Linked DNA regions of Homo sapiens: all the other regions are reported to be linked to region 1. Evidence: microRNA targets listed by miRTarBase, many of them from high-throughput screens and not tested one by one. Region 1 holds a microRNA gene; each other region holds the end of a gene's coding sequence.

Region 1 (8,419 bases):
TCCATAGACGTTGTACTAATTTAGATTCCCAACAGCAGTGTACAAGCATTCACTTTTTGCCATATCCACACCAACATTCATTGTTTTTTGACTGTTTATTAATGGCCCTTCTTGCAGGGTAAGTTGGTATCTCGTTGTGGCTTTAATTTGCATTTCTCTGATGATTAGTGATGTTGAGCATTTTTTGTTGGCATGTGGAGCATGTTTGTTGGCATGTTGAGCATGTTTGTTGGCATGTGGAGCATGTTTGTTGGCATGTGGAGCATGTTTGTTGGCATGTGGAGCATGTTTGTTGACCATTTGTAGATCTTCCTTTGAGAAATGTCTATTGATGGCATTTGCCCACTTTTTGGTGGGGTTATATGAATTTTCTTTGCTCATTTGTTTGGGTAACTTTAAGAATCCAAGTAACTGCATTGTAGTGTCTGTTTAATCTGCCAGCCACAGTCATATACTTATTGAAGCAGACGCCTCTTCCTCCCATGAACGGGGATGTGCCTGTACCCTTCCCAATCAATCAGCTAAGAAAAACCTCTCAGAGGGGTACAGTAGGCTGTCTTACAGCCCACATCGTAGAGACAGGCCAGCCCTGTGGAATCACGTTGGTTTTTGAAAGGCACAAATGAAAAGATACACTGAGAAGCTTTGGAACACAAGATACATTTTATACGCCCTTTGCAGGGTCGTATTCAGCCAGAGTCCGCCACATTACAGACATAGAAGATTTTCAGGGTCTTCATGGAATTCTTGCTGGAAGTAACTGGTGCGTTGTTTTTGAAGCTTCCTTTGATCTTGAATTGGGTCTATCAGGTAAACACACTGACCTGTCTTCTTAGCAGCCAATTGCTGGTGACCTTTCCACAGCTTGTGTCCATCCAGGAGTTCAGCAAAAGCCTGGCCTTTCCTCCTGCTCTGAGCCCAGCTCTCTACCAGCCGCTTTGAATCCTTGCCTGGATGGTACCTACTTCTCTGCAGAGGCAAATCAACACAGTAGTGTCATGAATCTGTACTAGTTTATTAGTTTTAGTTTTCTAGGACCGCTGTAACAAATCATTACAAACTGGGTGGTTTAACATAATAAAAATTATATCCTCTGCCAGTCCTGGAGAACAGGAGTCTGAGAACAAGGTATGGGCAGGGTGGCATGCCCTCCGGAGGCTCTAGGGGAGGACTCTTCCTGCCTCTCCCAGGTCGTGGGGGCTTCAGATATCCCTAGGCTTGTGGCCATATCACTTGTCTCTGCCTCTGTCTCTATGTGGCACGTGGCATTTTCCTCTGTGTCCATGTCTCCTCTTCTGTCTCTTAGAAGGACACTGGTCATTGAATTAAGGCCACCGTAAGTCAGAATAATCTCATCTCCAGATCTGACTTTAATTACAAATCTGCAAAGACTATTTTTCTAAATAACGTCATATTCCGGGTTCTGGGCTTTATGATGTGGATTTATCTTTCTGGAGGCAACTGTTCAATCCACTACAATTGTATCCAGTCCTTTCCAGAGATGCTAGAGGAGGAACCTTCCTGCCTCTCCCAGCTCCTGGGGGCTCTAGGCTTCCCTGGGCTTGTGACCACATCACTGCACTCTCTACTTCCATCTCCACGTGGCCTTCTCCTCTGTGTATGTGTCTTATCTTTTCTGCCTCTTAGAAGGAATTTAAGATTACAACTGCTGCTAGATTTCCCCTTATTGCTCTGGTTAAGGAGTCCGTGGAGTCTCCTGTAGTATGAAAGGTTTCGTTTTACATTGCAGTCCCTTACAAGGAGGGCTTAGGCCAATGTCTGTGCTGACTTCCCTTCTACATCTCTGGATTCTGTCTCACCGGCTCCCTGTCATTTCCCCAAAGATGTCCTCCACCCACCTCATCCTACTCTTCATCCCTGCAACATCTGTCCTTTTTTTTTTTTTTTGAGACAAGATCTTGCTCTGTCACCCAAGCTGGAGTGCAGTGGTGCGATCATAACTCACTGCAGCCTTGATCTGAGTCCAAGCGACCCTCCCAGCTCAGCCTCCCAAGCAGCTGGGACTATAGGCGCTTGGCGATTTTTTGTTATTTTTTTGTAGAGATGGGAGTCTCCCTATGTTGCATAGGCTGGTCTCGAACTCCTGGGCTCCAGTGATCCTCCCACCTCAGCCTCCCAAAGTGCTGGGATTACAGGCGTGAGCCACCGCACCCAGCCGACACATTTAAAGAAATGTTTTGGCAACTTATCAAATACCCACAGATTGGATCTAATCATTTAAAAAACACAAACTTGGTTGTAGACTTTCTGTCCTTCTGAGGCCCCATGACTATGTAGTCCCAAACTATTCTCGCCGATCACAAAGGAACATTCTGTTTAGGGCTACTTTTACCTTTGCTTAGACCATCCCTTTATTCAATTAATGTTTGAAACATCATACAGTGGGGGAAACAGCCATGCTATGGAGTGCGCAATGTTTGTTAAAAATTAAACAACCACTCACCCCTCCTTGCCCCAGTGACCTTTTCTTATCTAATCTTTTTCTTGGCACCGGTAAAGAGAACAGCCTTTCTTCACATAATCGCTCCATGGCTTCTCAGCAGAACATAACCAACCGCCTTGCTGAGGTGGCCTAGGGTGACCGGGTCTTCCTATCTTTTGTGCAGAGCTCTTGTCATGCGCAGGAGTTTGGGGAGATGCCCCCCACCCCCCCGCAAAAGGTTTCCTATGGCTTTAAAATAAGAGGTAGTTCAGGAACATTAACTGTTCACTTTACATTTAAGATATGATCTCCTGGAGATGTTGATGTGCCAGCTGGTCTTGTTGAGAGGCAGTTACTGATCTAGCAGGTGTTTATAGATTTTACACCTGTCTTGTTCTTTTTTTTAAAAAGAAACAACCTGCAACTAACTAACTTTATTTCGTATGTTAATGAGACAGATGTGAAAGAACACAAAATCAAAATGCTTCCCAGGATTCACAGCTCTAGTGTTCCTTGGCTTTATGGTTTGGAAGGAAAGCTGATTTATATAGGCAGAGGCTCTCTATATAGGTCCTTACCTCCCCTGTCCTGTTGTTTTGGAATGTGAGCAGAACACACTCAGGTCTACTGTATGAATAGGACACCCTGCGCCCTGAAATTCCATCAGCTTCACAGATCTCTCGTGGATTCTCTCAGAGTGATGACTCCCTCTCCCTTTCTCCAGTGTCTGAACACTACGTGGTAAGGGACTTTCCACGCACAATATTACTCTCAGCAGACAGAAGATGCTTTCCTGGAGAAGAAAGCGGCAGTATCTTCCAGAGGCAATTGGAGTTTTCAAATGTTGGTGGAGTTATGGGGTTGAAGGCTCCAGCTTTACTGGGTAGAGTCTCACGCCTCACAGTGCGCTTGCCCTGGGGCCCACTGGCTGTGTGTGGGTGCTTGTCCTCAAAACTGTAGCAGCCCAGTGCCCCTGGAGAGCCACTTTACCCAGCATCACTATTAGGTGCTCTGCCAGCTCTGTGGCATGGAGAGGAATTGTCTGGTAAGAACGGAATGTTTTCCATTCTCTCCATCAAGAACTCGAAAGGCTGATTGACAGGTGCAAACGCAAATCTGGTCATCTAGGCTGAATTACAAGATGTCTGGTGGAAGTTAAGAGACTTCAGGAGGTATTAAGAGGGATGGAATACCTGGAATTCCTTGGGGGCCAGGAGAGTTGAGCCATCCTCAGAGATGTGTGCATACTGCAAACCTCCTTTAAGCCAGGGCACTGGTATTGTGGGAAGCCCAGTTAGGGATTAGAGGGATTCCAGAATTAAGATCAACAAAGCAGTCTGACACCCTTTGGGGTGCCAGAGATTATCACTTAGATTGAGGACAGGGGAAAGGGGGTACACTCAACTCAATTGCTTCCTATAAAATCTTACAGACATCAATGATCCCAGAGGATGGGGAGCTACAGTGTCATCTCAGATCATTTTCCAAGGGAAGGATAGATGACCCCATAACTCATTATCTCTAAGAGAGAATGAGATTCCACATGCAAGATAGGAATCAAAACCCTTTTCACCACCTTCATTGACTCAGTTATGCAAATGGCCCTAGCTCATAGCCTCTAAGCCCAGAGCAGACAGTGCATCCTGGTTGCTGATTGCATACCTCCTGATGGGTTGTAACTGTGTGCTTTACGGAGGGCTAGTGTAAACATTCTCATTGCAAAGCGTCTTGCATGGATGAGCAGACATAGAGTGGCATTTGCCGGAGCTGAGCACCCCTGACTTCAGAGTTCACGTTTGGCAAAGTGATTTGTTGCACTACTTGGCAATTGAAGCATCCCGAATAGCTTTGTTTTATGGGGTGGGGGGCGGGGGCGAGGGGAAGAGAGTGGAGCTTTCTGTCTCCCTACTAATCAGGAGGGTCCTTGTTTGGGCTTTAGGCCCCTTCCCTTGTTTTCTGGGCAGAGGAATTGCCCCTAGGAATCCTCTGCAGGCCCTGCCAGTTTCAGAGCTCCCTCATTTTCATCTCTCCACTTCAATGAGCTCATTCACTAAGGCTTTCCCACAGCCCAGGATCTGACTTGGGTGGGCCTGCTTGGGTTTTGTGTGCCTCTGTGCCAGGAAGAGAACAGGCACAGGGCTCTGCTTGGCTATTGCCGGCATTCCTGGGCTAGTGCGTCACGGGGTCTCATGGTGACAGCATTCCACTGGAAACACGGAGTCCCGGAACCCAATTTTGAAAGGAATCCTCTCTAAAAATCTTTCAGGAGGGAGAAAACAGAGATTTCAGAGAGTTAACAGTGCTCCTCAAAACAGCGTTTGTCAAGGAAATTAGTAGCGACTTGTATGACACCCTCTTTCTCCTGTGATTTCACTTTCCTAAATGTTGATTGCTCCGGGGTGTGGGGCTTTTTTCTTCTATACCCAAAGCCACCTAGTAGAAGGGTTAAGTGCATAGACTTTTTCCAGGCGATCTCTGTGTTCATAAAGAGAAGTGGGGAAAGGGCTCTAGTGTTTCAAATGTAAAGTAACCATTGTTAGGAAAATGACTTATTCTTTCTTTCATTCATTTATACAAATGTAAGTTCTGGCTATGCTTAGCTACTCAAGGGAAATCAGAGGCAACTGGGTCCTCTAGGGATGTTTAGCAATATCTGGACACGTTTTTTATTTGTCCTCGCTGGGAGGTTGTTCCTGGCATCTAGCAGGCAGAGGCCCAGCGATACTACAGGGCACATGCCAGCTTCCCATCATAAGAAATATCTCCTTCCAAATGTCAATAGTGGTGTTACCAGAAAGGGGTCTCTATCCAGACCCCAAGAGAGGGTTCTTGGATCTCGCACAAAAAAGAATTTGAGGTGAGTCCATAGAGTAAAGTGAAAGCAAGTTGATTAAGAAAGTTAAAAAAAAAAAAAAAAAGAATGGTTACTCCACTGAGCTGCTCCACCGAGGATACTTATTATTACTCCTTCATTATATGCCAAACAAGGGGTGGACCATTCATGAGATTTCCAGGAAAGGGGTGGGCTGTTCCTGGAGCTGAGGGTTCCTCCCTTTCTCAGACCATGTAGTGTAACTTCTGGATGTTGCCATGGCATTTGTAAACTGTCATGGCGCTGGCGGGAGTGTCTTTTAGCATGCTAATACATTATAATTAGCATATAATGAGCAGTGAGGATGACCAGAGGTCACTTTTGTTGCCATCTTGGTTTTGGTGAGTTTTGGCCGGCTTGTTTACTGCAACCAGTTTTGTCAGCAAGGTCTTTATGACTTGTATCTTCTGCCGTCCTCCTATCTCATCCTGTGACTAAGAATGCCTAACCTTCTGGGAATGCAGCCCAGCAGATCTCAGCCTTACTTTCCCCAGCCCCTATTCAAGATAGTGGAGTTGCTCTGGTTCAAACGCCTCTGACAGTGGGATGGTTGAGAAACTTGGGGGTAGACCAAGGGCAAGGCAGCAATCTCAGCCTGTGGAAAACATTTTAGTAGATGCCATTGTAATGTCTGAAGTCATTCAATTATAATGTCAAACTCACTGCAAAACATGCATTATCTAAATATCTCTTATAGTTAGCTTTCTTTCTCTCTCTCTATTTTGCTCTCTCTAATTCTACATTTTAAAATCATATATGTACTGACCAATACGATGTTTGGCTGATCATTGGAAAGGCAATTGGAGAAACTTAGCAGCCCTGTTGAAATCCTCGACATATGCCATCTCCATGCAAATTCAGTACAAGGCACAATAGTAAAGTGTGGCTATGATATCATCAACTTTGAGGGGCCTCATTTCCCCCCCTAAATCCCTAGTCTCAAAGCCTGACTCCACTTTCTTCTGCCAGCCAAGAAGCTTGTCAAAGCCTGAGGGCATCATTGCTCTTTCCCCATTTCTAGCAGATGGCCGTGTTGTGAGACATTTAATCCACTGACTGAATCAGTTACAGTAATACCAGTGGCTTCTGAAGATCAGCCTCAAATAACAGTAGCTCAATGAACATAAATGGCATCAGAAAAACACAAGTAACTGAAGAAATTACAGGGGTTTATGTCCGCTCTTTCTTCGTTCAGAGAATGTTATTCTGTGGGCATTACTGAAAAGGGAGCTTTTGTTAATGGCTGATCTTAGAAACCAGACTTCTTCTACATTGTGATTCTACTAACTCCAACATGAGACATCTAAGAACAAGTTGGGGATTTTTTCCATTGCAGCCAGCAAGGAACAGAAAAGAGCGTGAAGGTTTGCATGTCATAAGTAGCACACAGCACACAACCGCCCCACCCAACCCCACTGGTGAGAACTGGGCTCCACAAAGACCTCTGGCACATGGGAAGCTTGGAAGTGCATGTAGCCTTGTGTGCCTGGGATGAAGAAGACATGGGTTTGCTGAGCCAGCATCTGATCTGCAAGGTGCTTCATCATTTCTTCACCATGTGACCTCTGCAAGTGACTTAACCTGTCCGGACCTCAGAATGCTCTTCCACATAATGAGACCTGCATGAGAGTAACTGTCAGGTCACATCTGGCTCCGGATCTCATAATTCTTTCTGTCTTCACTTTCATCCAGGCCCTTTACAACCAAGCACCTTCACTTTCAACCAAGCACCATGGAGAGCTCCTTTGGCTGATTTTTGTTTCTCATAATCTGACTGTCTTCAATAACTGTATGAGGATTCTTCAGAGAAATACAATCAACAGGATAAACTTATCCTATTGATAGATATGTCTATTTATCTATAAATTAAATAGAAATAATATAGATATAAATAGATGGATACATATATAGGTGGATACAGAAATAGTTATAGATACAGACAGGAGATTTATTATGGGAATTGGTTCATGCTATGGCAAGATATGGAGACCTAGCAAAGCTCATTTTTTAATTTAATCCAAGACTGAAGTCCAGAAAACCATAAGAGCTGACGGTGTAAATCCTGGAGCCCCAAAACCTGGGAAACAGGGCCTTGATTTTGCAAGGCAGGAAAAGGTGAATGTCTCAGCTCAAGAAGAAAGAGAATGTACCCTTCCTCTCTCTGCCTTTTTGTTCTCATTAGGCCATCAAGGGATTTGACAGTGCCAGCCCACATTGTTGACTGATCTTCTTTACTCAGTCCACTGATTCAAATGCTAATCTCTTCTGGAAACACTCTGGCAGACATACTCAGAAATAATGTTTTATCAGCTGTCTGGGCATCCCTTAGGCCAGTCAAGTTGACACATACAATTAATCATCAGAGTAGAGTTTCTAGTAATGCTTTTGGTTCTTCTAACTATTTTTGAGGGTACAAAGAGCGAGCAAGACCACTCTTTGGAAACTAGCCACAGCCAACCACGCCAGCCAATTCTAAAGCCATCATGCGGGGAGAGTGAGCCCTACAGTTCCCAGGTGTTGGGTCCCCATCCCACCACTGGAGGCCACCAATAAAGCAGGTGGTGGAAGGTGGATTCAGGGGCATCAACTGGAGTGACATTTGACTGGGACCAAGTCAGTTGAGGATGCATCACGTAGATTTGAAGTAATTAAAACATGGCTACATATGTAAGGTGAGGGAAGCATCTTCTTTCTACTCAAATTCTCTCTTGTCCTTCTGCAAAAAGCAGAGCTACTTGAACCACATGAGGCCCAGTTTGTCACCTCATTCTGACATAATTTTTTCTGGTTTATTATTACAAAATTTTAATGAGAAGAACGCCTCTAAGACAAATGCCCTAAGAGGAACATGGAACATTCATCTTTATTATTCTTTTGGCTCCATTTGACCAAACTCCCTTTGTCTACTTAGCATATTCTTATGGTTTCTTGAATGCAAGTATTCTCTTTTTTTCTCTCTCTCTTCTTTGATTTTTGTCTGTTTTTTTTCCAACCTATACAACTGCCACTGAATATAGTGATGCATTAAGCATAATAAATCTATAATTAACTGATACCATTTCCTCTTCCAAAATTAAACTTCCACCTTTTACATCTATTTCCAA
Region 2 (8,419 bases), not on the chromosome of region 1:
TATAAAGATAATGGGGGTTTCAAGTAATATTTGCCTTCTCAAGTCACTGCTGTGTCACAGTTGAGGAGAAAGACAGCCTGCCTACACAGCAAAACTGAATAATCTGCACCAATATCTTCCAGGTTTTGATACTACTATCAATAATTACATACTTTGGAATGTAACATATTCAGATGTTTCAAAGTATTCATAATATCTAACTCTGGCTTATCCTGAACAAAAAAGCCTGCTTGCTTAGAAAGTAGAAAGACTGGCCCTGGGAAAAGCACCATTTAAGAGGAAGAAGACTAAAGACAGGGAAAGAGACTAGAAAATACGAAAAAAGATAAGACTGAAAATTATCAAGGAAGTCATAATGCTTGGAAAACTCCATTGCTTTCAATAGATGCATATTTAAATTGACATCTATTACCAAGACCTCAAATAGAGTGGGATGCAGATGATTCACTGGGCTAACAAAATCCAATTTCTTTCACAAGTCCCACCTTCCAGGTTAATCAGAATCCTAGGTTAATCAGAAAAGTAATACTCCAAAATCTCAAAAACCTACTGTTACTATAGGTATAACTGCTCTAAGCCAGGGGAGATCTAACCTAGGCAAATATTCTGGAACTTTATAGATGAGGATTATCTATTACTCAGAGGGTATATCATATAAAACTTCCTAATATCCAATTAGAAAGCAGCAACTTTAAAATACCTAGTGAAGAGAGTCCCTATTATAGAAAGCTAGTTACTCACTTGAACTTTGTCTATGTTGACAGCGCTCACAACAGATTCAAACTCCCTATACTGTATCAGCATGGCCTAGAAAACTTTGTCAAGATAGATCTAATTCAAAAGTCCCTATATCATTTCCAAATGGGAAGCAATTATTCTCTCTTCTTGCAAGGATTTTTTTTTGTTTTAGAGATAAGGTCTATGTTGCCCAGGCTGGTCCTTAAATTCCTGGCCTCAAGTGGGCCTCTCAGCTCAGTCTCCCAAGTAGCTGGGATTATAGGTGTCTGCTGTCACACCCGGCTTCCTGCAAGGATTTCTGTTTATGAACCCCCTAACATTTCCCATTTTTCCCACATCGAGTATAAGTAGGCTATCTGAACACTAAGAATGAACATTCACAAAGCAAACATGTTAATGGTCCAATATGTATTTAGAAGAATTATAGACAATAACAGAAATGGGAAGATAGGTCTAAAAAGAATTTGAAATCCTCAGATGTTTCATTATGTTTCAAAACATCCAGGAAAAAAGGAAGAAAAACTTGGCTTTTTACTGCTCTACATGGAACAGAGTAAGTTTAAAGAAGTTAAAATTAAGATACATTGCAAAGGGAAAAGGTAGGGGTTCTAATCCAGAAAAACAGTACTTTGGATATGAATCAAAATACTTCTTCATAATGAAATTAGTTTTTAATCCACTTGGGAAAAAATTCATTCTTGTCACCATTATGCAAACCAGTTCAAGTTAACTCAGAGGAATGGCAAAACTTACTTACAACTAAACTTTAAAATACCGGCACCATTAAGACAAGGACAAACAACAGGCCAATTCTAAATGCTTTTAAAGTAATGGGAATCATGAAGGAGCACAAAAAAATCATGAAGGAGCACAAAAAGAGTTATGATAAGAGGATCTAGAAAAAGTTGGCAAACTCTTTCAAGAAAACATGTATATGTGACAACATGAATTTAAAACTTCAACCAAACTATTATAAAGGCAAAATGTCATGAGTAACAACTTTAGGAGGTAATTCTTTCTTGGAGTTGGCAAATTTTTTCTAACAAGTACCAGACAGTAAATATTTTCAAGCTTTGTAGCCACGTGATCTTTGTCACAAGTACTCAACTTTGCCATTGTAGTAGAAAGAAGGCATAAACAATACCTAAACAAGTAAGTGTGGCCCTATTCCATTATAATTTTCTTTACACAAGCAAGTAGCCTCAGCATTTGGCCTGGAAACTACTGTTTGCTGAACCCTGATCTAATTCCGTAAGTCCTAAGGGTATATTTTGCTGAGGACATCTTCTCAAACCTAGGGATTTGCCCGACAATTGCTTGTTGCTTTTCTAAATCTGCTTAGCAACCAAAGTATTTCAATATTTTAAACTCTTTCACATATAACCTAAATAAAGAGCTCAATTTCCAAAGACTAAGTTCAATTAAGACTCATTTGTTATTCCTTGAACTAATAAGTACACAGATAAGGGGAAGGACATTTTAGGAAGAGAAAAAAATCATGCCTCTTGTACCTGAAAAAAAGAAAAACTTCCAGGATTCCAACTCTTCCTGATTAAATGCCTTTCACTATGATGAAGAAGACTTTTGTCTTTGTTCAGTTTCCTTTCCATTATCCATTGCTTTCATTTAAGTTAGACAGTCTGGTCAAACAAAATAAATACAGTTTTCACCAGTTAAAAGAAACCCAATTAATGTCAAGTAACAGCTAAAACTCTGGAAAAGTTACTTCTTGACCAAAGATTATTCAGCTATTAAGAATGACATTTACAGCCAGGTGTGGTCACACGCCTGTAGTCCCAGCTCCTCAGGAGGCTGAGGAAGGAGGACCACTTGAGCCCAGGAGTTTGAGACCAGCCTGGGCAACATAGTGAGACCCTGCCTTTAAGAAAAAAAAGAAAAAAATGAAGTTCCCTACTTCACTCTGCCACCAGACCAATTCCAACCAATACCAGATGTCAACTATGAAGTCGGGGGGAAAAAGTTTTTTCTATCTTCAAACCATCTTTGGAAAACCCTGTTTCACTGATGTAGAGGGAACTGGAAACATTTAAAAAATGACAAAAAATAAAATTTTCCTTAACTGCTCTCTTCATTCCCAAACTTTATCCTCTATGAACTAATTTACCTTTATGTATTTGAGATTAGATTTAACCCTCTATTATAATAAAAATGGCATGGGGTAGTTTGCAACTTGGATAAAATAAAATTCAACTTGGTTCAGAGGTAAATACGGTTCTGAGTAAAGAGAGAACAAGTCATTAGAAGGAGCCTTTCTGCCTAAGTACAGCATTAACTGTTCATGCCAATGCTATATTTTATACTGGTATTAGAGTTCAGACAGAATAAAGGAACATCTTAGTATGAAAATAGATTAATATACTTCCGTCTCTCTTCTTTGCTGAGAATACTGGATAGCTCCTTTGCTACTAAGTGCCACTCAATAAATGAAAACAGTCCCAGTGTTTGCAATTTCATGGCATTAAAGTACTTCATGATGATGTAGCTCTCATTGCTAATGCAGTTCCCTTCACAAGGTAACACGTGCAAGTTAAGATTTGGTAATTAATTTTCAGCATCAACCAAACAAAGTCCATTTAGTACATCCTTAAGAGGTATCCTCTGTGCATACACCAATAGCTGTTCATTAATGTAGATAGAACATCAGTAACTCCTATGACCAATGTGTTGTTAGCTAAGAACTAGGACAATGTCACAGTGTATGTGGGTAAGAGTCTTGGACAGTTATTTAGAATAACAACATCTCTTTTAACGAAAAAGCTGAAATTGTTTTCAGAAGTTTTAATTTGTTTAAAAGCTAGCCTGCCTTAAATTTTCATGAATTTTGTGGCTCTGGCTAGGCCAATTGAGAGAACCAGCAAACATGATTGTGCTAAAGTGGTCCTAGATGACCAGGAAGCACCCTATTCACAGTATCAATATAGGAAAAGGCTATTTAAAGTGAATGAAAAGAAAAGGGAGGGGAAACCCACCAAACATTCATAGCATTTCCACATGAATGAGATAGTCCCTACCTCATTTGTTTGTTGCTAACCCTGGAAGGAGAATTGACAAATGCTGCAAAGTTTCTCTTTACAGAAATTACTGCACTTCACCTTTAAAATTTGGTAATAGTTTAAAAAGCTCCATTTTCTCACATATAATCTAAGAAACTAACAAAGCAACAAAGAATTCTTTCTCCAGGCCAAGTTCACTGGCTCATGCCTGTAATCCTAGCACTTCGGGAGGTCAAGGTGGTAGGATTACTTGAGGCCAGGAGTTCAAGACCAACCTAGGCAAATTTTGTAGAGACACCGTCTCTACAAAAAAATTTAAAAATTAGCTAGACATGGTGGTGCATGCCTATAGTCCTAGCTACCTGGAGGCTGAGGCAGGTCAATCACTTGAGCCTAGGAGTTCAAGATTACAGTGAGCTATGATTGCACCACTGCACTCTGGTTTGGGTGACAAGAGGAAGACACAGTCTCTAAAAAATATAAAAAAGAAGAAAAAGAAAAACAGAACTTTCTAGCATACTATTTCTCAAAAGTAGGATGGACTTAAAAGTTTTTTGGTAGGCTTAAAGGCTCCATCCAAAGCAGCATAATCTGTACTTCTCACCTCACTGCCTATTTAGTAATGACAAAATCTGTCCACTGAAAACCTTATTACCAGTTGTTTCCCTAAGGATTTTTGGCTAATTCAACTTTACCTTTTCTATGCCACAGAGCACAGCCAGTCCCTAAAGATGGCTTTAGAAGACAGTTTTTTCCTTATCATGCTGTTGTCTAACTAAAGCGGAGGATGCACCAGTCTATGTCTTCTAAAGACAAAATACAGTTTCAATGCTGCCTTTAAGGGTAGGCTCTTATTAAATGGTAGCATCATTATCTTCCCATAAAAGATGCATTTCTATGCTTTTTCAGAAGATAAAATAACCTTTCTCTTGTGAGAGGGTGCAGCTTTATGTACATGTACAATTCTCAGATTGCTTAAGATCTACCCTTTGCATTCTAATTTCTTATCTCAAAGAGATTTCTTTCTTTTCTACCCACCTTTTCACATACCACAAAGCAATCTCAGGAAAGGAGCACATGACTAACATTCTCACAGATGGTTCACCAGTGCAGGTACAACCTGTCCCTCTGCCAAATCTCTTTTACAGTCATCTATGCCTCTGCACTGAAACAATTTCTTAAACCATTACATACTTAAAAGAACCCCAACAACTAGTGCTCCGTCAACAGAAGCTAGAGATTTTTCAACTTGCACTGTAAGTTATAAGCATCTATTTGCCGGCATCCCTTAATATTCCTCCTTCTCTCACTTCATGAAAGACGGGGTATCCAAAGCTCTACATGTTTGCTAAGTTCTTTCTCTCAGTGCTGGATTAAGAATCTTAGAAATACCCAGAATTACTAAAAGGGTCCCTTGAAGTTTTAAAAATCTTAGGAATGACTAAGTAACCAAACCTGACCAAAATTGATCCTTTGATCATTTATTGCAACATGATTCTGCATGATGTTTTCTGATAAGTGCCCTGTAGTATATTATTAAAAAGCAAAGCTCTTGGAGTCACCAGCTATGGTTTGCTGATGGTTGGTTTATGAATTACTAGGTTTGCAGACCCGAGACATAGTTTTAAGTGAGGTCCTTCTATATGCCTGAAAATATAAACTATTACATATGTATAAGGAAATGAAATTGTGGTTGCAGTAAGAACCATAGTGTTGAATTTCTTCAACCACAATACTGCAGAAAAAACATGTTTAAAACTTCATATAAAAGTTATCAAATATGGAGACCTGTGGATTTAAAAATACAATCCAGGCTCATTTCACTGGAAAGTGACATTTTTGATTACAATATTGCTGAACGTGAAAATAGGAGCCAAAGAGACTAGATGAAACTTTGGTAGTCAGCCTAACACATTAATTCACCTGAACTAGAGCCATTACCCAAGGATGTGTAGCACTATGGTTTACAAATACCAGTCAGGAAGTTGCAGAACGGCTCTGTGCTGTTTGATATTTGCAAAACATAAAAACACTTCCCTCCCTGCTCTCCTCTTCCTCAACACAACACTCAAGCCCCCCAAATGTAGCAGTACCTATTGCATACACTTTGCTGCTCATTTCACTCCCAGTTGCCAAGTGCTTCAGGTGATGTTGTCCACTAGAATACTGCTTCAAGATGGCTGATTATATGAAATAACCAGGCAAAGTATTAGATGCCTAGTCAGGGGAAAGATAAAGCCTAACCTTTCAAAATAAGAACCACCAGTATTCATTTTTTTCTTGAAACACAAAAATGCATGTTATGCCAGGGAAGGAAGAGGAGAAATTTCTCCTCCTCATCACCATCATGACTACCTCCTCTCTTGCGGTTGGCTGCTTCGGATGGTTGAGGCTCCTGCTGCATTTTTTAGATCCGGGCAATTATAGCCACCAAGATGATATGGACCAAAGTACAGTGTTCAAACATGACTGATAGATAAATGACCATTTATCATCATCGTTTTGTTAAAAAACCTTTTTTCTTATAAAGTTAACAAACCAAGGCTGTTGATCCCTGAATTAGAAAGTTGATTTGCTTGATTATTTTCCAAAGTGTGAGGCGGGCAATAAGAAGGGAGGAGCCTTTAGTGCTTTTGTGTAAGTTGCTGATCCTCCAGTTTGGCAACATCTTGGGAGCATCTTCTGGCCTAGTGATGTGGCATTTTGTGAATCTAAGTATCAGCCCATGGCTCTGATGCTGGCTGCTTATGGCTCATAGGGGAAGAGGGTCAGCCCCCTCCCCCTGGATGTTTCAGTCTGGCCCAGTGGTGGACACAGAGCCCTGGACAGCTTCCCCAGGAGCAACTGTCTCTTCCTGTGAAGGTGACTCTTCCTCAGCTTGTCCTCGAGATGTGACAGTTGTTTCAGGGGAGATGCTGTGAGGCCCCTCCAGGGGTATACAGCCAGGGTGGTTTTTGCGAAAGTGCTGATTCAAGATGGCCTGGAAGGGGAAACTTTTGCCACAGACATGACAGTGAAAGGGCTTGTTGCCTGTGTGCTTGCGGATATGATACTCCAGCTGATCTTTCCGGGTATACTTCTTGCCACACATGCGGCAGACGAATGGTGTGATCCCCATGTGTAGGCGCATGTGGCGGTCCAGGCTTCCCTTCTGGTTGAAAGATTTGGCGCAATAGATGCAGGTGAGACGAGGGTTGTACCGGAACCACCGCTCAGATACTTCCTGCTCTCGGAGATACTCCACATAGCCACTTACTCCCATCATTGCTGACTCTTCTACCTGTACCAGGTAAGGAAAATAACCAAGAAAGAACAAATATTATTAAGCATACATATTAAAAGCAATCAAATCTATTTTTACTTGTTACTAAGATATATGTACCTTTTTAGTGGCGGATCAAACAGAAAATTATTACCAAAAAGTAAAGATATTACCATAATAATTTTTAAAAAATTGAGACTACTCTATTCCATTACTATAAAAGAACAACACAGTAAAGTTACTTTCTGGCTGACAAACTGGATGCTTATTAAACCCCTGCTGAATGTACTATTTTACAGTAATGTGAGGAGAAACTGAGCCCACTTATACTATACCCTGGATCCTAATCTTACAATTATATTCTAGACAATCAAATACTTAGGCAGTGCTGGTCTAACAGAACTATCTGTTTTTGTTTTTGTTTTGAGACAGGGTCTCTCACTCAGGCTGGAGTGCAGTGGTGTGATCACGGCTCACTACAGCCTAGACCTCCTCAGGATCAGATGATCCTCCCACCTCAGCCTCCTGAGTAGCTGGGACCACCAGCACGCACCACCACTCCCAGATAATTTTTGTACTTTTTGCAGAGACGAGGCTTTGCCATGTTGCCCAGGCTGGTTCTGAATTCCTGGACTTTGGCAATCTACCCACCTCGATCTCCCAAAGTGCCAGGATTACACGTGTAAGCCACGACGCCCAGCCAGAACTATCAATGATGATGAAAATGCTCTACCCCATTCATTACAGTAGCCACTAGCCACCTGTTGCTATTGAGTATTTGTAATATGGCTAATACAACTGAGTAATTTTTACAATTTTAAGTGCTTTCAGTTAATTACAATTTAAATTTAAATAGCCACATGTGACAAGTGGCTAATGGCTACCATTTACTATATCAGATAGTATAGAATATATAATGGCAACATATTATAAATTGTGACATTATCATTAATACCACATTTTAATCTAGCAGTAGCTAGCTTTATAAAAATGTATACAATTTGTAGGTGACAATATTCCTTTTTATGTAAAATATTTCAGTATCATATGAACATATTATTTTCACTCTAAAGACTACTAAAGTTTAACTGACTTCAGAGTAAATTGTCTGAGGGCATGGGTTTCTTTTATCCGAAAACTGGGAGGCAGTATGAACATATTCCTTTCAATAAATTACTTAAAAATCTTGGATTTAAGGCCAGATGTGGTGGCTTATGCCTATAATCCCAGCACTTTGGGAGGCTGAGGTGGGAGAATAACTTGAGCCTAGGAGTTTGAGACCAGCCTGGGCAATATAGCAAGACCCCACCTGTACAAAAAATAACAATAAAAAATTAGCTGGGTGTGGAGGTGCGCACATGTAGTCCCAGCTCCTTGGGAAGGCTGAGGTGTGAGGATCATTTGA
Region 3 (8,419 bases), not on the chromosome of region 1:
TATGGACAGACCCACATAGCTTGGAGCATGTGTTGAAGAGTGTAAATGTCAGAGCCAGCGTACCGGGTTTGAGTCCCTGCCTTGCCATTGACAAGCAGGGCATGACAGACAAGTGATGTCTGTGTCTGTTGCTTGTCTGTAAAGTGGGACGCCGGCCGTGCTGCCCTGTTGGGCTGCTGTGAGGGTGGAGCAAGTTAACACATGCACAGCCTGTAGAAGGGTGGCCGTCTGCCGTTGTCTCTGGTGGCTGTATGATGTTCCGGAGGGAATGTCGTTCTAAGCGATGCCTTGCTGAACACCCCCTGCGCTCTCCTTGCAGGTGTCGAGTGATACTCACTTGATACTCTGAGTGTGGCCAACATGCGGGGCTCAGGTGGCTTACTGCTTTTCCTTCCAAAGGCCGACTGTGGTGACCTTGCTGAAGACAGATCATCCGTCTCAGGGTCTGGAGTCGGGGTCCCACACTGCTTGCCGTGAGAGGTCAGGGGGCGGTGCTGGCCTCTGAGCAGCCCCGTGGCACTGAGGGCTGGCCCAGGTGCTCTCACAGGGCGACCTCCTGACGCCCGTGCTCACCGTGGCCCTCGCTCCTAATCCCACCCTCAGGTTCTGAGGCAGGAAGCAGTTCCCACACTTGGCTACTGGGAAGGAAGGTTGTGTGGGGGGGCAGAGGCTTCCTGTGTGACCTGGAGCTGATCTTTCCCGCCCCTGCAGGTGCAGCAGTACCGCGTCGCCATGACTGCCAAGGACTGCTCCATCATGATTGCACTGTCTCCCTGTCTGCAGGATGCCAGGTGAGGCCCCCACTGCAAGGCATGCAGCCTGGGTCTAACGGGGTTTTATGGACAGTTGGTGAATTGTTAATAGGATAGTTGGTTTCCCCATATTTAGAGACTCCATGGCGGAGTGACATAACTTCCTTGGCCTATGTGACATCATGGGGCTTACTAACTCTCGCCCTCTAGAAGCTTGTAATTCAGTCAAAAGACAGATTTATGGAGAATAACTTAAAAGGATTGTTAGTACATTGAAAGTTACTGTTTTCTAAGAAAATACTCCCAAGAGCTCAGAAACAATGTGGACAGTGAGCTGCCCATTGCATTCCCTCAAAGAAAGCCAGCCCCTGAGATGTGTGGGTACCTGTGGCCCTTGTTCCTCGGTCTCCCACAGTGGCAGCATGGCGCACCTGCCTTTTTACCACCACAGTCATTTGAAAGCCTGTGAGGCGCGCATTCATTCTGCTTCCTCTTCTGAATAACCAGCCTATGTGCCGCCCCTCTCCCTAATGTCACTAGTTTTGTCCAGTCCCCTCTGTTTCTGGGAATTCGGGATGAAACTGATAATCTCATAGTCGTTAGACAGCATCTCCATCACCGATCTTCAGGGGTGCTAAACCCTGCACCCAGTATTTGCGGAATGTTCCACATTCTTCTAACATGTGTTCCTGGGTCAAGATGACCTTGGTTGCTGGCTGCCAGCCACTCACTTTCCCGGTGCTTTTGAACTAAACAGTTCCCAGGATTCCTGTTCCCTGGCAGGCACAGAATTGTTTACTTTCCAATATGAAATACTGAGGAACATTATAGGGCTAACTGAAGTAGAAAAAAGGTTGTTCTATTTAGTTGAAAACTCCTGTTATCCCCTAAGGAAATACCTACAGGGCTAAGTTATGAGGAATTCCTTAACTGGATTAAGCTGGTGGTGTTCGATGAGAGAAAACCCACGAAGATACCACTGTTCAGCAGCCCCCCGACCAAGGATGCAGCTGGGCAATGGAAATGTGCTTGGATGCAGGGTGCCCTTAGGTGGGCTGTGAAAGGCCGCTGAAGGACAGACATGTTACTCACCTCGTCTAGCACCTGGGAATCTCTTAGTGCCTGGTCAGTGATGTCAAATTGGAAAGCCAGCATGCGGGGAAAGCTGAAGGCCCGGGTCCTTACGACCAGCTGCTCAGCAGAAACGACACTAGGAGGGGAGGGGAGGGCATGTCCTGAAGGCACTGAGCCATGTGGCTTCTCAGACCTAGGGTGTAGGCACTGGAACCATCCTGCACAAAGCACTCTAGCCAGGCCTTTCTCAACAAAAGGAGAGGATCTCAGAGAAGGCTTCTCCTCCGAGAACATGGCGTGTGGGGCTGGGCCTGCTTCCAGGAAGGTGTGCGCAGTGGCCGCACCTGTGAAGTTCCAGTAACTGTGGTGCTCTAGAGGCCTAGGGACAAACTAAGGCTGGGATTTATCATGAGTCATCTTGGCGTCTTGAGATACCTGGTAGACCTGAGACTAAATTTAGATCCCTAGACTAATTTGCAGCTCACAGATAGATTGACCACATTTAAACTTCTTACACCCCCTAAAATAAAGGCTTCTCCAGCTCTGCACTACTGTTTCTGCCCTGTCATAAAGGAAAATGTCTCAAGTTGGATCTGCCTTCCTGTCGCTGCAGAGCTTTGTCCCTTTGGGAATTTGGAACTGTGGAGAGAGCTGCCACAGCTTCCCGGCCTAAACCCTGATGCTCCTCTCGACCTCCCATTTGAAACACAGTGTGCGGCCTTGGCTTCTCCACCCCGATCCCCAGCACCCTTGGAGGCTGCTGGTCCCCCGGTAACCCCCAGCGGGTCAGTGTCCTGGAGAACGGCCTTCCAGGCAAGGGCTGCCCCCCTGCAGCCAGAAGGCCACCTGAGCCTCATTCTCCAAGGCTGCTAGAGGGCACACTTGTGGCACAAGGGACAGGTGTGTCCCTGGGGCCTCTTGCCCAGTCTTGGCCTCCGGGGTACTGAGGGGGAAGAAGAGCATTTCTGTGTCAGGAGCTGGTGCCCGCTGGTCACTGCCATTGGTTCCCATGGAGCTAGCTTGTGGTTGACCCAGGTAGTCAGACCCTCCCCGGGAGCTGCCTGGAACATCCTTCCTGTCTTTACACCCATGGTCTTGTCAGGTGCTGCTTCTGAGAAATTGGGGTGTCCTTTAAAATACGTAACCCTAGTCATGGGCTGGGGATGTGACTGTTCCAGCCCAGGTGCACCCAGCTTGGGTCTCAGGCCTCAGAACTGAGCAGTACCTTGGGCTTCTGAGGTTCTCCCAATAAAATGTGGCCCCTTGGGATGAGCTGCAGGCACACTCCAGCTTCTGGAGCGAGACTCATGACCTTAATTTGTAAATGAGTTATTTGCTGTTTACTCTTCAGATGAGAATAGTTACTTACCCCAGCAGCTTAGTCAGGGATTTGTTTTTTCTACAAACAGGATTCTGGGGCAGGGCAGCAGTGAGCGCCAAGGCCATGGTGAGCAGCGTCAGAGCAGGGACGTGCTGATCAGTATTTCCTCTCCTCGGCAGGAGCTTTTGAAGTTGGGGTTTGGCTTGTTGATTTCTAAATCTCAAAGCGTAGTAAACATTGGGACACCAGAACCCAGGATACTTCTCTTGGACTGAACTGAGCTTAGGTCACTTGTTTAGCCAGTGTCTTGAGTGCTGTGCGCTGAGTGCCCGGAGACGAAAAGCGGGACACACAGCAGTCAGAGCTCAGGACTCGGAGTAATCCTAAATGTGTTTTTCAGGGCAAATAATTAATCACATCTTGTTATAAGCACACGACTTCTGAGGTTAAAACCACAAAACTAAGCCCTGAGAAGCAAAATACAAAGGACTGAAGATAAAATTTGAGAATAAAATGAGAAACCAGATCTCTTCAAATGTGAACCAAAGGAGCTTGCGTTTCTCAGCAGACAGGAGAGGCAAAGAAGAAGGCTTGTCGACATTCCATCCATTTGGCGCTGGAATGGCCAGATCTACTTTTTACTTTTTGTTGGGTTTTGTAATACTTGGCTCATGATAAAGTGATTTTTCAGCGTTCGTTTATACCACTGGGCTGGGGGAACATCGCTCACATGTTCCACATAATTACTTTTCCATCTTTCAGTCCTTTAACCCTCTCTCGCCTGGTATGGTGGGGTGCACTGGCCTGAGGAAGCTTTGCACGCTGGTGCACACAGCCGGCACAGACAGCTGTCACACGCACAGATCACAGGTGCACAGAACGAGTGCTCTTTGTGAGCTGGGGTGTGAGGCCATTCACTTCTCTTTTAAAAGAGATTGATTTATCTAACTTTGCAGAAGTCAAAGAAAAAACATAAAAACATACTAGTTGAAAGAAGAAAGGGAGAGAGAACGGGAGGGAGGGAAATGAATGGGGGGCTTGTGTATCCTGAAATGGTACTTTTTACTTGCAGCTCTGATCAAAGGCCTGTCGTCCCTTCATCGAGGTCCAGGTTTGCCTTTTCCGTGTCTGTGCTGGACCTTGACCTCAAGCCCTACGAGAGCATTCCCCATCAGTATAAACTGGACGGCAAGATCGTCAACTATTATTCAAAGACTGTACGTGCCAAAGACAACGCCGTGATGTCGACTCGGTTCAAGGAAAGCGAAGATTGCACATTAGTTCTCCACAAGGTCTAACTCTTTCCCTGCAGTGTCTTTGAAACTTGAACATAATGTGAAGGCTGAATGATAGAGATATTTTCTGTTGTGTTGGGTGACCTTTGGTTGTGAATGTTTTTGCTTTTAACCCCTTTTGAGGTGGGATTGCCTCTTGGAGACATGGAATTGAAGAGCACTAGAAACAACTTCCTGGACAAGGAATGTAGGAAGTGAGTGCTGTGTCCCAGGAAGCTGCTCACACTCTTAAAATGGAAGTGTCCGTTAAGCCCTGGGAAGACGTTCTGGATAGTTCTTCTTTCCCAACCAGGGCTCATGTCTGATTCTCTAATGCGAAAAGCCTTATTCTAAGACCCAAGGTTTGGATCTGCTACCACCAGACTCCTAACATAGAAAACTTGAATTGTCACATACATTTTACAGTTTGGACTTTTAAGAAAACATGGATACTACTGGAACTTCCCCCAGCTGAGTTACATGGTCACTTTTTCAGTGCAAGCCACATATCAACACAGGTTTTTAGGTGGTTCCCTGCTGCACAGCGTGACCTCGTGGTCGCGCAGATGCCGATTCTGAGCAGTGTAGACTCAGGGTCCCTGTGGAGGTGCTGAAGCCCACAGTTCCACACAGGGCAGCAGGGAGCGCAAGGCTCAGGTCAGGATGGACACCACTCATGCGAGCATTGACCTTTTTTTTTTTGCTTTACAATTTAATCTTTCACATGAGGGGGAGATGAGCTGTTCTTTCCCACTAAAAATTGCTGCTGTAGAAGTTGGAGGTGGAGCTGTGACTGGCTGAGCTGCTGTGGCCGGGCTGGGCAGTGTGCCCCAACAGCTCAGTGCTTTCCTGACACTCCAGTGTCTGGGGTGGTTGAGGAGCGAGTTCTCTCTTCCTCCCAGACCAAGTTCCTCCCTCGGGTTTGCCTTGAGACGTGTTGCGTTTTTGGGCCCCGTGGCCTCTCCCTGTTAGGCTGCCACAGGCCCTGCTTCTGGAAGGTGAACAGCTCCTGGCTGCTGCCGAGAGGGTTCTCGTTGGGGTCACCAAAGTGTGCCCGGCTGCTATGAAAAACGTTGGGAATCTTGGTTTCAGTTTTTTATTCTATGCTAGGTTGTACAGACTTATTTATATCATCGTTTTGAGGGACTAATGGAGGCTTATTGTAACATATAATATTAGTGAAACCATGGAATTATATGAAAATGATACATGAGAAATAAGGAAACTATTTTGCTGATTGTAAATTTTTGTGGGAAATTTTGTGATAACTTGAGAATTATACTTGTTTGAATCAAGGCAACTCTTCTAGAATTTATTGTTCAATTCTGTCATATTTACTTCTAATTCTACTCTCAGAGGTGCAAAAAGATACTTATCTAACTGGACACTTTTACTGTTTTCTTCTCACTTCCAATGACACCGTCTCATACACACGGGTCCTGTGTGCTGGGATGGGGGCTTTGGTGAAGTGCACGGAGCTCACGGACAAGCCGCAGGCTCTGGGAAGCGTGGAGGTAGTGGCCGTTGAGTACTGTCTTGACCCAAGGGAGTTCACTGTTGCTGGGCTGGGGCTGGGGCAGCCTGGTTTGGGATGATTTTGCCCATTGTCACGGTGTGTGGAGGATGCTGGGTCCTGGGTTCAAGTGCACATGTGAGGGAACCCCAGTCCGTGGGAAGGTGGGCTGGGCTCCCTAGGTCCTTCAGGGCTGCAAGAGTTATTGCCTAGCACAGGGCCCAGACAGGGCTGGACTAGACACGATGAAAACAGCCTGTATTTGAGGGAGAAGAGAAAACAGATGGAGACCCCCACTCTGTCTGGTCTTGGCTCCCACCAGCCCGGGCTGTGAGGAGCCCCTGAGCCGCGGGTGCCACTGCTGTGGATGCGTTTCTGGCCCGTCTTGGAAACTGCTGCTGCTGCGTAGTCATGACGGCCCTGACTGGTTTGAGACAACACGCGTTCACAGATCTTAACAATGCTAAATGGGCGACTGATGAGGTCACGGTTCTTAAGGCACATCCGGGACGATCGATATAGCACTTAGGCTATGCAGGGGGGTCTTTCTTTCATAAAGGACCTCATTCCTTGCGTCCCAGCCCAGGAACAGTGCTGTCTTTGCTGTCTTAGGCCATTCTTGTTATTAAGCTGACAGCTTCACTTTCTTGTGGAAGACCAAGAACAGCATGAGGACTTGCTGAGACTGCCTCACGGTGCCACCATGCGGACCGGGGGGAGGCAGGGAGTGAGGGTGTGGCTCCCCTGGGCTACTAAGGACAGTTTAAAGATGAGGCGCCATAGGCATCCGTCTCCAGAGCCCCCAGGAGGCAGGAACCAGGATAAGGGTGGCTTCTCCCAGCTGAGTAATGTGGCCACCATGTCCAAGGTGGACTCGGTGTGAGGCTGCAGTGGGTGGGGGATGGATCCTCCCCACACATCTGAGGACACACAACCACTTGGTACATTTTCTCAGATGTTAAGCTTATTTTTATAAACCACATTGTACGTGTCACTTTTATTTGGCATTTTATACTTAACTAGTTGTATTTATTTTTCATGTCATGAGAGTTTCCATATAATGTGCCATAACTGCATAGACAGCACGTCTTCAGGGTGTGGTTTCTAAGCAGAAAATAGCAAATGTTTATATTGAATAAAATTGCATGTTCCTCCACGCAGCATCTTCATCCTCCACGTTCACTGTTTTGGAACTAGTTGTTCTCCTCTGCACAAAGCGATTTTATCAGGCTTTCCAGAGCAGCTTCGATTCCAAGCAGTCCTACCAGGGTTCGGAAGCTGAGAGGAGCAGTTTCTATGGCTCTGTTCTTGTCCAGCTCCAGGGCTATAAAGAAAACATTAAACCGGGTAAGAAACTTCAAGGTGGCAGCTTTTGGTCTTTTGTTTTCTGCTGGCATGGACCTCACCAAGACCCCGCACTCCTCCCGACTAGCTGCATGGGATGGGACATGCTAGTGGCGGGCGAGGAGATGGAGTGAGTGGAGGCCTCACCTACGGCTGGAGGCATATTCCCTGTGCATTCAGCCTGGGAGGGCCTTGGGGCAGCAATCCCTTTTCATGTTCTTTTTGAGTGATTATTGATAAAAATATTTAAAAATTGATAGACAAAGTACATTAATGAGATTTCCAATTTTTGATTCTTGCCCTTTGAAACCCAGAGGAAACAGGCAGGCGGCTTTGCTGGGCATGTTGAGAAGTCACCTAGAGCAGCCACACCCAGGGCCCTACCTCGCTGTGGGACTTTGGTGAGAAGATCCAGCTTTGGAAAAACCTTCCCATCTTCATCTATTTGTATCCTCCAAACAATGACTAATTCAAACCTGAAAAAGCAGTAAAACATGTCGTTATGTGCTTTTTGAAATCTGGCGAAAAGATTAGCAACCATGAGTCGCACCTGGTCTCCATTTCCCCATGCTGGGCTCCCCTGCTAGAAACCCCAATCCACAGCCAAGAAGAGGCACAGTCAGTAGCACAGGCAAATGGAACCAGGATCACAGGAAGGTGCTGCTCTGTCCCCACTGCATTGGCAAACATTAGTAGGCCAATACCAGCGAAGTACAGAACATGGAGCAACAGAAACTTCAAAATTACTGGTGGGAGCAGACATGGACAAGCCACTTTGGAAATAATCTGGCACTGACAGTAAGCTGAACATGCATCCATGCATGACACAGGAATTTCATTTCTAGGCAGTTGAGCCCAGGAGAAGCTTATGTACTGTGTGCCAGGAGGTGTGAGCCAGAACAAAGAAGCCACGTGCTCCAGAGCTGAAGAGCGCAGCAAGACGCTGTGTATGATCCCCTCCGGGAGGATGAGCAGTGAAACTGCACTGCAGCTGCTCATGACCCTGGAGGAGGTGAACGGTGACAAAGGCAAGTCCCAGAAGCCTGCATAAGGACCACATGATTTTAAAGCTTGGAAACCAGTTGAGTTGAGGCATTCACACACAGGTCATAAAAGCACACCCAGATGGATACATGTCCAC

The links. Region 1 holds the annotated microRNA hsa-miR-4770 (UGAGAUGACACUGUAGCU, at 3,901-3,918, opposite strand). A microRNA usually pairs through its seed, bases 2 to 8, with sites in the 3' UTR of a target mRNA and lowers its output. Matches are read on the target gene's strand: a 7mer-m8 pairs with bases 2 to 8, a 7mer-A1 pairs with bases 2 to 7 and ends in A, and an 8mer does both.
Region 2: the mRNA of ZBTB37 is a reported target of hsa-miR-4770. The part of its 3' UTR that is shown has no 7-base or 8-base seed match.
Region 3: the mRNA of CENPP is a reported target of hsa-miR-4770. Seed matches in the 3' UTR shown: 7mer-m8 at 5,154-5,160 and 7mer-A1 at 1,122-1,128.

The regions. Positions count from the first base shown.
Region 1 is chrX:6,380,007-6,388,425 of GRCh38, forward strand. It overlaps MIR4770 (microRNA 4770), which reads right to left and starts at 3,957; the gene lies at 3,900-3,957.
Region 2 is chr1:173,884,249-173,892,667 of GRCh38, reverse strand. It overlaps ZBTB37 (zinc finger and BTB domain containing 37), which reads right to left. Exons shown (of 5, transcript NM_001122770.3): 5 at 1-7,032. The coding sequence ends at 6,544. Among named protein-coding and RNA genes, the nearest start is that of ZBTB37, 20 kb to the right of the region's middle.
Region 3 is chr9:92,611,858-92,620,276 of GRCh38, reverse strand. CENPP (centromere protein P) reads right to left here. Exons shown (of 8, transcript NM_001012267.3): 7 at 7,663-7,754; 8 at 1-7,258. The coding sequence ends at 7,128. IPPK (inositol-pentakisphosphate 2-kinase) reads left to right here. Exons shown (of 13, transcript NM_022755.6): 12 at 712-791; 13 at 4,220-7,094. The coding sequence ends at 4,445. LOC100128361 (a long non-coding RNA gene) reads right to left here and starts at 2,227. Exons shown (of 1, transcript NR_036505.1): 1 at 1-2,227.